2 separate regions of the Homo sapiens genome follow, and region 2 is reported to be linked to region 1. The links are microRNA targets in miRTarBase. Many come from high-throughput screens and were not tested one by one. Region 1 holds a microRNA gene; the other region holds the end of a gene's coding sequence.
The links. The annotated mature microRNA hsa-miR-324-3p reads CCCACUGCCCCAGGUGCUGCUGG and lies in region 1 at 4,396-4,418, shown strand. An mRNA with a match to its seed (bases 2 to 7 or 8) in the 3' UTR can be bound and repressed. Matches are read on the target gene's strand: a 7mer-m8 pairs with bases 2 to 8, a 7mer-A1 pairs with bases 2 to 7 and ends in A, and an 8mer does both.

Region 1 (5,461 bases):
TGGCACCTTCCCAGCCTATCCAGGTTCCTCCTCCATGAGCACCATTACATCTGGATCGTCTTTGCCTGATGGTGAGCCGCCAGCCCACCTCATCCCACCCTCCCAGCAGAAGGCTGTCCCGCAGTGGTCTGATCCATTGCCCTTGTGGGAGCGATCCCTGACTCTGGTTACCCGTTGTCTCCTCTGCCAGGCTGTGAAGGCCGGGGTCTCTCCGTCCATACGGACATGGCATCGGTGACCAAGGCCATGGCAGCTCCAGAGTCTGGACTGGAAGTCCGGGACCGCATGTGGCTCAAGATCACCATCCCTAATGCCTTTCTGGGTATGGCTGGGTCCTGGGCAGGTGGCTGGAGAAGGGGAGGAGGTGGTGACCAAAGCCAGGAATGGCACAGGCAGAGGCGAGAGCAGGAGTTGGAAGAAGAACCTGAGGCCTTTTTCCACTGTGGGTGCTCCCAGGCTCGGATGTGGTTGACTGGCTCTACCATCACGTGGAGGGCTTTCCTGAGCGGCGGGAGGCCCGCAAGTATGCCAGCGGGCTGCTCAAAGCAGGCCTGATCCGACACACCGTCAACAAGATCACCTTCTCTGAGCAGTGCTATTACGTCTTCGGAGACCTCAGTGGTGGCTGTGAGAGCTGTAAGTCCCCCTGCCCCAACTCTGGGAGTGTGGCTTTGCCTACCTTGTTCTGCCTCTCCAACCCTAGACCTAGCCCAGAAACCGCAGCCAGGGCCACCATGGATGGTCGAGCAGTGTGTGTCCCGCACTAGGTCCTGCACTGGCCGAGGATGGGGGCTGACGTCCACCCATGTGCTGCTGGACAAGCCATGTGCCAGGTGCAGGACTGTGTCCACCGGGGGAAGGTGCACCTCTTACCTGAGTCCCGCAAAGACGTGGGCTAGTGGCTGTGCCCCTGCCCTCATGGCAGAAGTAGATGGGAGTTTCTTGTCAGAGACCCTTGTGAACCCCTGTTTTGAGCCCCATCGTGGGTGGGTCTGGGAGAACTGTTCCCAGTTCCTCTCCATTCGGTGTCTTGGGGCCCTAGCCTCTTGAAGCAGTGATTTCTTCCTCTCTTCCCTTGCTTTCCAGACCTAGTCAACCTGTCTCTCAATGACAACGATGGCTCCAGTGGGGCTTCAGACCAGGATACCCTGGCTCCTCTGCCTGGGGCCACCCCCTGGCCCCTGCTGCCCACTTTCTCCTACCAATACCCTGCCCCACACCCCTACAGCCCGCAGCCTCCACCCTACCATGAGCTTTCATCTTACACCTATGGTGGGGGCAGTGCCAGCAGCCAGCATAGTGAGGGTAAGTCATCCCCACATACCTGTACGGCCAGGATCTGAGGGTGGATGAGAGGGGAGCCAGGGAGGAGCCTGGGTGAGGACTCAGTTGCCCCTCCCCTCCCTCCACAGGCAGCCGGAGCAGTGGGTCGACACGGAGTGATGGGGGGGCAGGGCGCACGGGGAGGCCCGAGGAGCGGGCCCCCGAGTCCAAGTCCGGCAGTGGCAGTGAGTCTGAGCCCTCCAGCCGAGGGGGCAGCCTTCGGCGGGGTGGGGAAGCAAGTGGGACTAGCGATGGGGGCCCTCCTCCATCCAGAGGCTCAACTGGGGGTGCCCCTAATCTCCGAGCCCACCCAGGGCTCCATCCCTATGGACCGCCCCCTGGCATGGCCCTCCCCTACAACCCCATGATGGTGGTCATGATGCCCCCACCTCCACCTCCAGTCCCTCCAGCAGTGCAGCCTCCGGGGGCCCCTCCAGTCAGAGACCTGGGCTCTGTGCCCCCAGAACTGACAGCCAGCCGCCAAAGCTTCCACATGGCCATGGGCAATCCCAGCGAGTTCTTTGTGGATGTTATGTAGCCCACTGTGGGGCCAGGCTGGGCCGGGCGCTCCTGGTGTGTGACTGGGTGTCCTGGCCGTCATGTGCTTGCTCTTACAGTGCCTGGGCTCAGCCTACCAGCTGCTGCCATACAGGAGATTGTGGCCACTGTGACTCTCACCAGCAGTGCCTGGTTCCTCCCCCTTCCCTCAGGGGTAGACAAGGGACCTTTGATTATTTTTAGCTTTGTTTTTTTATAAGCCTTTTTGGGGGTTAAAATAGAGTTTCTTACATTTTTGGGACTTTTTTAATAGGCATTTCCTCTTTTATATGAAGAATTCCCATCCATTGGGCCCCTTCTAACCCCAGAATGTGACCTCCTCCTCCAGTTACCCACAGCCCTGCCCTTTGCAGGGTTGGGGGTGGTCAGCGGTACCCCGGGGTTAGGCATCCTAGACAGCAGCCTGAGGAAGCTGGGAGATTTGGGCCATGTAGCTGCCTTTGTTACTCTATTTATTTTAGTCACTTGTATAAAACACCAAATAAAGCAATAGAGGCAAACTCCCCACGCCTCTGGCTCCTTTCTTTGGGAGGGAGGCAGGCAGCAGGGGGAAAGAACCGTCACACAGGAGCAAAGCATGACTGGCTAGAAATTTTTATTATTTGCGAGGCAGTAAGTGCTCTTGAGAGCAGGCACAGTGCTGGGAACACTAGGCCCCTTCGGGACAAACCAGGGCCTTAAGGAAAGGGGCTTCGGCTTTGGCTTGAGGGAAGGCACATAACTGGGACAGGCCCTGGCCGGGAGTATTCAGAAGCCAAGTGGGTTGCTGGTGACCACACCACCCCGCTCCACCAAGGCCTTGGAGATGCTTTTGAAGTTGCGGTAGAGCTCTTGCTGCCAGGGGTCAGACTGCAGGGCGGCCATGCCCTCTCGGATCCGAGCTGCAGCCTGGGGAGAGGGAAGGAGGGGTTGGGCCTGCACCTCCAGCCCTCACCTGAGCTTGGCAGCCCCGAGTCTCACCTCGATACACCAGGTGTCACAGAGCATTTTCTCATGCTGGGCCGTGGGGTGGCCCTCACTCAGGGATCTTGAGGCCCTGGCAGGAAGCAGGAGATGAAAATAAATCTGGGCCGGCTGGGATCCAGGCCCAGGCCCCCTGCGGCTCAGGCATTCCCTGCCTGCCTCCTCACCTCGAGAGAACCACCACCATGGCATAGAGGTCGATGGCCCCGTCTGCCAGCCGCTGCAGCAGAAACTGTTCATCTGTCCGGTAGGTGGGGTGGGGGTGGGGGTGGGGGCATTAGTCTCAAGGAGAGGAAAGGGAGGGGCGGAATGGTGTAGAGCTCACTTACTGACAATCCCCTTCTTGTGTTTTATCAGCTTGGCCTCCACCACAGTGGCAAACTGCTCCAGAGCCCGTACTGCCTTAAGAGATGGGGACAGTGCGGGGCTCAGAGGGGCCATCGGCTGCAGTCCCTGATGCAGGCTCTCCTGGACCCCTGGCCACTTACCAGCTCGCCACTCCGACTCAACTCCGGGTGGACAAGTCCGCTGAGACTCAGGCCGCTGCCCAGCCCTGCCCGCCTGAGAGGAAGAGGGAGAATGACTGGTTAGTTGCCATACACCACCCTGCCCTCCCCTGGCTCTGGCCCTAAGCCTACCGCCTCAGCTGTTTGCCTGCCTCTCCTAGCAGGAGGCCAGCATTCCCAAAGGGATTCTTTAGAGCACTGCCAAGCCCAGAGAGCTCCTTTCCTTTGTCCTATGGGGGAAGAGGGTCCAGCAGTCAGGACTCACTGTCCTCCCCACCTCTACCCCCACCCAATTCTCTGTCTTACCATACAGCCCTGCAGAGCCACAAACAGCCGAAGAATGTCATTTGTCCCCTCAAAGATCCGGAAGATGCGAAGATCTCGGAGCACACGCTCTACTCCAGGTTCCTAGCACAGGGCCACACAAATTATATGCCCGTGCTGAGATGTGCCTACCCACCCCTGGCCCAGCCGAGGCTCTGCAGAAGACCGTCCTGTACCTTCATGAAGCCCATACCCCCCATGATTTGGATGCATTCATCTGTCACCTTCCAGGCTGCCTCCTAGGGACAAAGAACAGATGAGACTGGTTTTGGGAGCTGAGCACCCAAACTGGACTCCCTCCCAGCATGCCTGGGACCTCACCGAGCCAAAGATTTTGCTGATGGCGGCCTCTATCTGGAAGTCCGTGGCTCCCTGGTCCATGTTAGCACTCACCATGTAAGCCATGGACTGAGGTTGCATAGTTGGGACATGGGAAGGAAAATTGCAAAGGGCTTTGTCAGACTTGGCCTCATCACCCAGATCTCCAAGATAAGGGCTGACCTAGCTTGTCAGGTCAGGCAGATACTTGTTCTGGGTCAGTTCATCAGGTGCTTCCAGGTATTTGTTTTCTTAAAAGGGGTGGATGTAAGGGATGAGGTAGAATTAACTTCTGGTACTGCTGGCAGGCACCTGAGCAGAACATCATTGCTGTCTCTCTTCGCAGAAGCTGAGCTGACTATGCCTCCCCGCATCCCCTAGGGCATTGGTGTAAAGCTGGAGACCCACTGCCCCAGGTGCTGCTGGGGGTTGTAGTCTGACCCGACTGGGAAGAAAGCCCCAGGGCTCCAGGGAGAGGGGCTTGGGAGGCCCTCACCTCAGTTACATACTGCAGCATAACCATCCGTGCCAGCTTCTCCTGGATCAGCCCAAAGTTGTGAATTTTCTCCCCAAACTGGGTACGATTAGTGGCATGATCTACCTGGAAGAGGGTCCACACATCCCGCTGTGGTTCAGTGTGGTTCTGCAGTCTCCCTAGGAGAGGGGCTGGGCTTGCGCCAGAGGGATGGGTTTTGCATACAACCAGAGTTCAGTCTACGCTGGATGGAGACCTAAGCTAGCAAGTCGGGCTGCTGGTAGGGGAGGAGTTTCTAGTGTAGGGAGTGCCTGCAAGTGATCAGGGACACATGGCAAGGGGGACAGTGAGACTTCTGTTTGGGTTACCTAGGGACTCGGGCAGGGTACTCACCGCCTTAGCAATGATGCCTCTCATGGTACCTGCCAGGGCCGCAGCCATGCCAAACCTTCCATTGTTGAGGATGTGCATGGCAACCTTGAAGCCACTCCCAACCTCACCCAGCACGTTCTCCGATGGCACCCGTACTCCATCAAAGAACACCTCTGCTGTGTTTGAAGCCTTGATGCCCATCTTCTTCTCAGGGGGCCCACTGTGTCAGGGCAGTGTGGGAAAGCAGAGGTGTGTTCAACAGGTTGTCACTGGGGGAAAAACTGCTCCTTCGCTCCTTATGCACCAGGGAGGAATGACGACCACTAGACTATTAGAGGCTACAGCCACCACTTCCCCTCAGGCCCTGAGGGCTAAGGAGGCCTGGCTATGTCCTATTTTGTGTTGGACTTGGTTGCTGGAGCCAAAACTTTAGCTCAGTTGCATACATATTAGTCCCAAAGGCCACATTCAGTCCACCTGCTTTGGCTTTTGCACACGTCCCCAGGGTGACTTGCAACAGCCATCTGCCCAGGAGCCCAGTCCTGCCCCTCAGTCCTAAGCTCCCCCAACCCAAATTCACTCACTGGGTAATGCCCCCGAAGCCCCTCTCCACCACAAAAGC
Region 2 (3,000 bases), not on the chromosome of region 1:
CCTGCCCCCGTCCTCCTCCGGGCCCCCCTGCCCTGCCCTGACGTCCACCTCACCCCCGGTCTGGCAGCAGCAGACCATCCTCATGCTGAAGGAGCAGAACCGACTCCTCACCCAGGTAGGGCAGGCGCGGGAGGGGTGCAGGGGTGGGGGTGAGGCCCCGCAGGCCTTGACCAACTGTGCACCTGCCCAGGAGGTGACCGAGAAGAGTGAGCGCATCACGCAGCTGGAGCAGGAGAAGTCGGCGCTCATTAAGCAGCTGTTTGAGGCCCGCGCCCTGAGCCAGCAGGACGGGGGACCTCTGGATTCCACCTTCATCTAGTCCTTGTGGGCCGCGTGGGCCCCCAGGGCCAGCCTGGCACTCAGCCCTTCGAGGGTGGGCGCCCCATCGCACCCACCCTCTCTGGCTGGAGACCCCCGGCAGGCCCAGGCACAGTCCCGGAGTGGGCGCCTTCCTGCCGCCCTTGCCAGATGGGCTCCCCAGGCCTGCCCCCGGCTGGTCCCCGCACCGAGCGCTTGACTCCGTTTTGGCTCCTGGTGCTGACATGGGCTGGGGCTCTCTTGAGTCCGCATAGTCCGCAGCTACTACTGCCGCTGTCAGTGGACAGTGGGGTACCCCTCCATGAGTTAGCGTCCCCCCGTTTCCAGCGGTGCCGCCCTGGGTCCCATCTTCAGGGAAAGGCACTGCCCACGCCAGGCTGCACTTCCAACAACGGGCAGCAGAGGGCGCGGGGCGGCTCCGACGCGGGTCCAAGGGCAGCTTCCCGCTCAACCAGGGCACCAGGACGAGGTGGCTGTAGCTCGGACGGACGGAAGTAGATGGAGGGGGTGGGGACGGCCTGTAAGCGGGGGGTGCCTGCCTGGCTGGGGAGCCCCAGGGATAGCGGTCGGACTTCAGGTTCTGGCCAAGGCTGAGGGACCCTGGCTGCAGCGGATCGGCACGCCGGGTGGGCGAGAGCTTGGCCTGCATGTGCCTCCCACAGACCCTGGGGTGATGGCCTTCCCCCTCTTGGCCGGGACGTTGCCCCACGTTGAGTCCCACACAACATCCTGTGAGCCTGGCTCCCCAGGAGGGCCCCCAGACAGCTCCCAGGCACGTCATAGGCAAAGCCTGTTCCCCCGACTCAGGATTTCCAAGGCCTGGGGTCCTGCTCACCCCCCTTTGCTCTCACGCCCAGCCTGTCCCCAGGTTTCAGCTGGGAGAGGCCACCTCCCTCAGCCAAGGAAAACGAGAACCCCCAGGGTACAGGAGGAGGCTGGGGCAGGTCCCCTTGGGTGTCACTCCCTCAGCCCCTGCCCAGGCCCACTCCCGCTGGTGCTGGAGTACGCACTGGTGGGGGGGCCCTGCTCAGCCCAACCTGGAGGGTCCCAGTGTCACCAGAACCAGGGGCACGGCAACAGCATCGATGGGTTCTGCAGCCCAGGGCCCCCGATGCGGGGTCAGTGCGTGGGGGGCGCAGGGCCCCCGATGCCGATGCGGGGTCAGTGTGTGTGGGGCGCAGGGCCTCCGATGCGGGGTCAGTGCGTGGGGGGCGCAGGGCCCCCTCGTGTCCAGGGCACTTTGGTACACTGTCCCACAAGGCACCTGTCTCAGAGGAGGGGCCCTGGCAGGCAGCGTGGCAACTCCCTTCCGGAGCCCAGCTCCATGCTAACCTGCCCACAGCAACCCCACAGAGCCACATTCCCTGCTGCACCTGGTCTGCAGGGGTGTCCCAGGACAGGCCCAAGTCAGCCCAGCATGCAGCTGCCCTCCTACCCTGAAGATGGGAGTGGGCTTTCCAGGGGACATAAGGATGTCAGGCCTGGACCTCCTGGGCAGGAAAGGGTGCAGGTCCTGAGGGCCTGTGCCCCACAGCCCCAGCACCAGGTGGACTGCAGCGCAGTGGGTGGGCCAGTGGCAGCCAGGGAGAAGCCCCCCGTCAGCAGGCTGGGGTCTGCCCACCAGGGCCTCCCCACGTCTGCCTTTGAGGGTGCCTGCCATGCCCTGGGGGATCCTGGCATCTTTACTGGACTGGAAGCAGGAGACAGAACAGTGTCTGTCCCGGGGTGACTTCATCAGGAGACCGCCCACATAGAGCTGGACCCCGCAGCTGAAGCGGAAATGTGAGACAGGCTGGCACCTCCGGAAAAACTGCCTTTCAGCCTTGGTGTTCCGTGCAAGGTGAAAAGAAATAGGTCCTCCCAGTTTACAGCTTGAAATCAGGCTAGTGAGTGGCCCTGGAGACCACGAGGGGAGAATTTAAAGGCCCCGGCTGGCAGGGTCTAGGTGGCTGGCAGAGGCACATGCAGACCCTGCCTGGAGCCTGCCCTAGGACGCTGGGCGGGTCAGTCTCCGTGCAGGATGTGAGCAGCGTCCCTGGGCTCTATCCGCGAGGTGCCAGTAGCGTGTGCAGGTACATACACGTGCGTGCACACTGTGATGACACCCGGAAATGTCTCAGGATGTTGAAATGTGTCCTTGGGGGCAGAAGTGTCCCCAGTTGAGAATCTGCCCCAGAGGAACACACCCACACCAGGCCTCAGGATTTTGTGTTGATCAAGTTCCAAGGAAAAGGAACATCTCAGCCGGGCGTGGTGGTTCACGCCTGGAATCCCAGCACTTGAGGCCAGGAGTTCCAGAGCAGCCTGGGCAACGCAGTGAGAGACCCCATCTCTACAAAAAAAAAAAAGAAAGAAAGAAAATGAGAGATCCAGGTTTAAAAATTCATAAACACCACAAGGAAACAATACACTATGAGACCCAGCAGAAGCAACAGATTGACTCTAGACCCAGATACTAGAATTATCAGAGAGAATATAAAGTAACAGTGTTTTATATATCTAAAGAAATAAAAGAGATTTCTGGAAACATGAACAAGGAGTGGTATTTATAGTTCCTTACTCCATGAAAAGCATGATCTCTTAATGCTATAAAGAAGACTAGGCCGGGCGCAGTGGCTCATGCTTGTGGTCCCAGCACTTTGGGAGGCCGAGGTGGGTGGATCACCCGAGGCCAGGAGTTTG

Region 2: miRTarBase lists SAPCD2 as a target of hsa-miR-324-3p. Seed matches in the 3' UTR shown: 7mer-A1 at 596-602 and 7mer-m8 at 1,877-1,883.

The regions. Positions count from the first base shown.
Region 1 is chr17:7,222,265-7,227,725 of GRCh38, reverse strand. MIR324 (microRNA 324) reads left to right here and starts at 4,347; the gene lies at 4,347-4,429. ACADVL (acyl-CoA dehydrogenase very long chain) reads right to left here. Exons shown (of 20, transcript NM_000018.4): 9 at 5,424-5,461; 10 at 4,861-5,059; 11 at 4,489-4,593; 12 at 3,996-4,082; 13 at 3,851-3,913; 14 at 3,657-3,758; 15 at 3,483-3,580; 16 at 3,333-3,405; 17 at 3,174-3,246; 18 at 3,012-3,084; 19 at 2,842-2,917; 20 at 2,460-2,769. The coding sequence ends at 2,629. DVL2 (dishevelled segment polarity protein 2) reads left to right here. Exons shown (of 15, transcript NM_004422.3): 11 at 1-71; 12 at 191-322; 13 at 457-636; 14 at 1,087-1,305; 15 at 1,413-2,384. The coding sequence ends at 1,861. RefSeq lists an enhancer at 2,271-2,770.
Region 2 is chr9:137,061,978-137,064,977 of GRCh38, reverse strand. It overlaps SAPCD2 (suppressor APC domain containing 2), which reads left to right. Exons shown (of 6, transcript NM_178448.4): 5 at 1-115; 6 at 191-2,851. The coding sequence ends at 319. Among named protein-coding and RNA genes, the nearest start is that of SAPCD2, 7.1 kb to the left of the region's middle. RefSeq lists an enhancer at 392-1,169.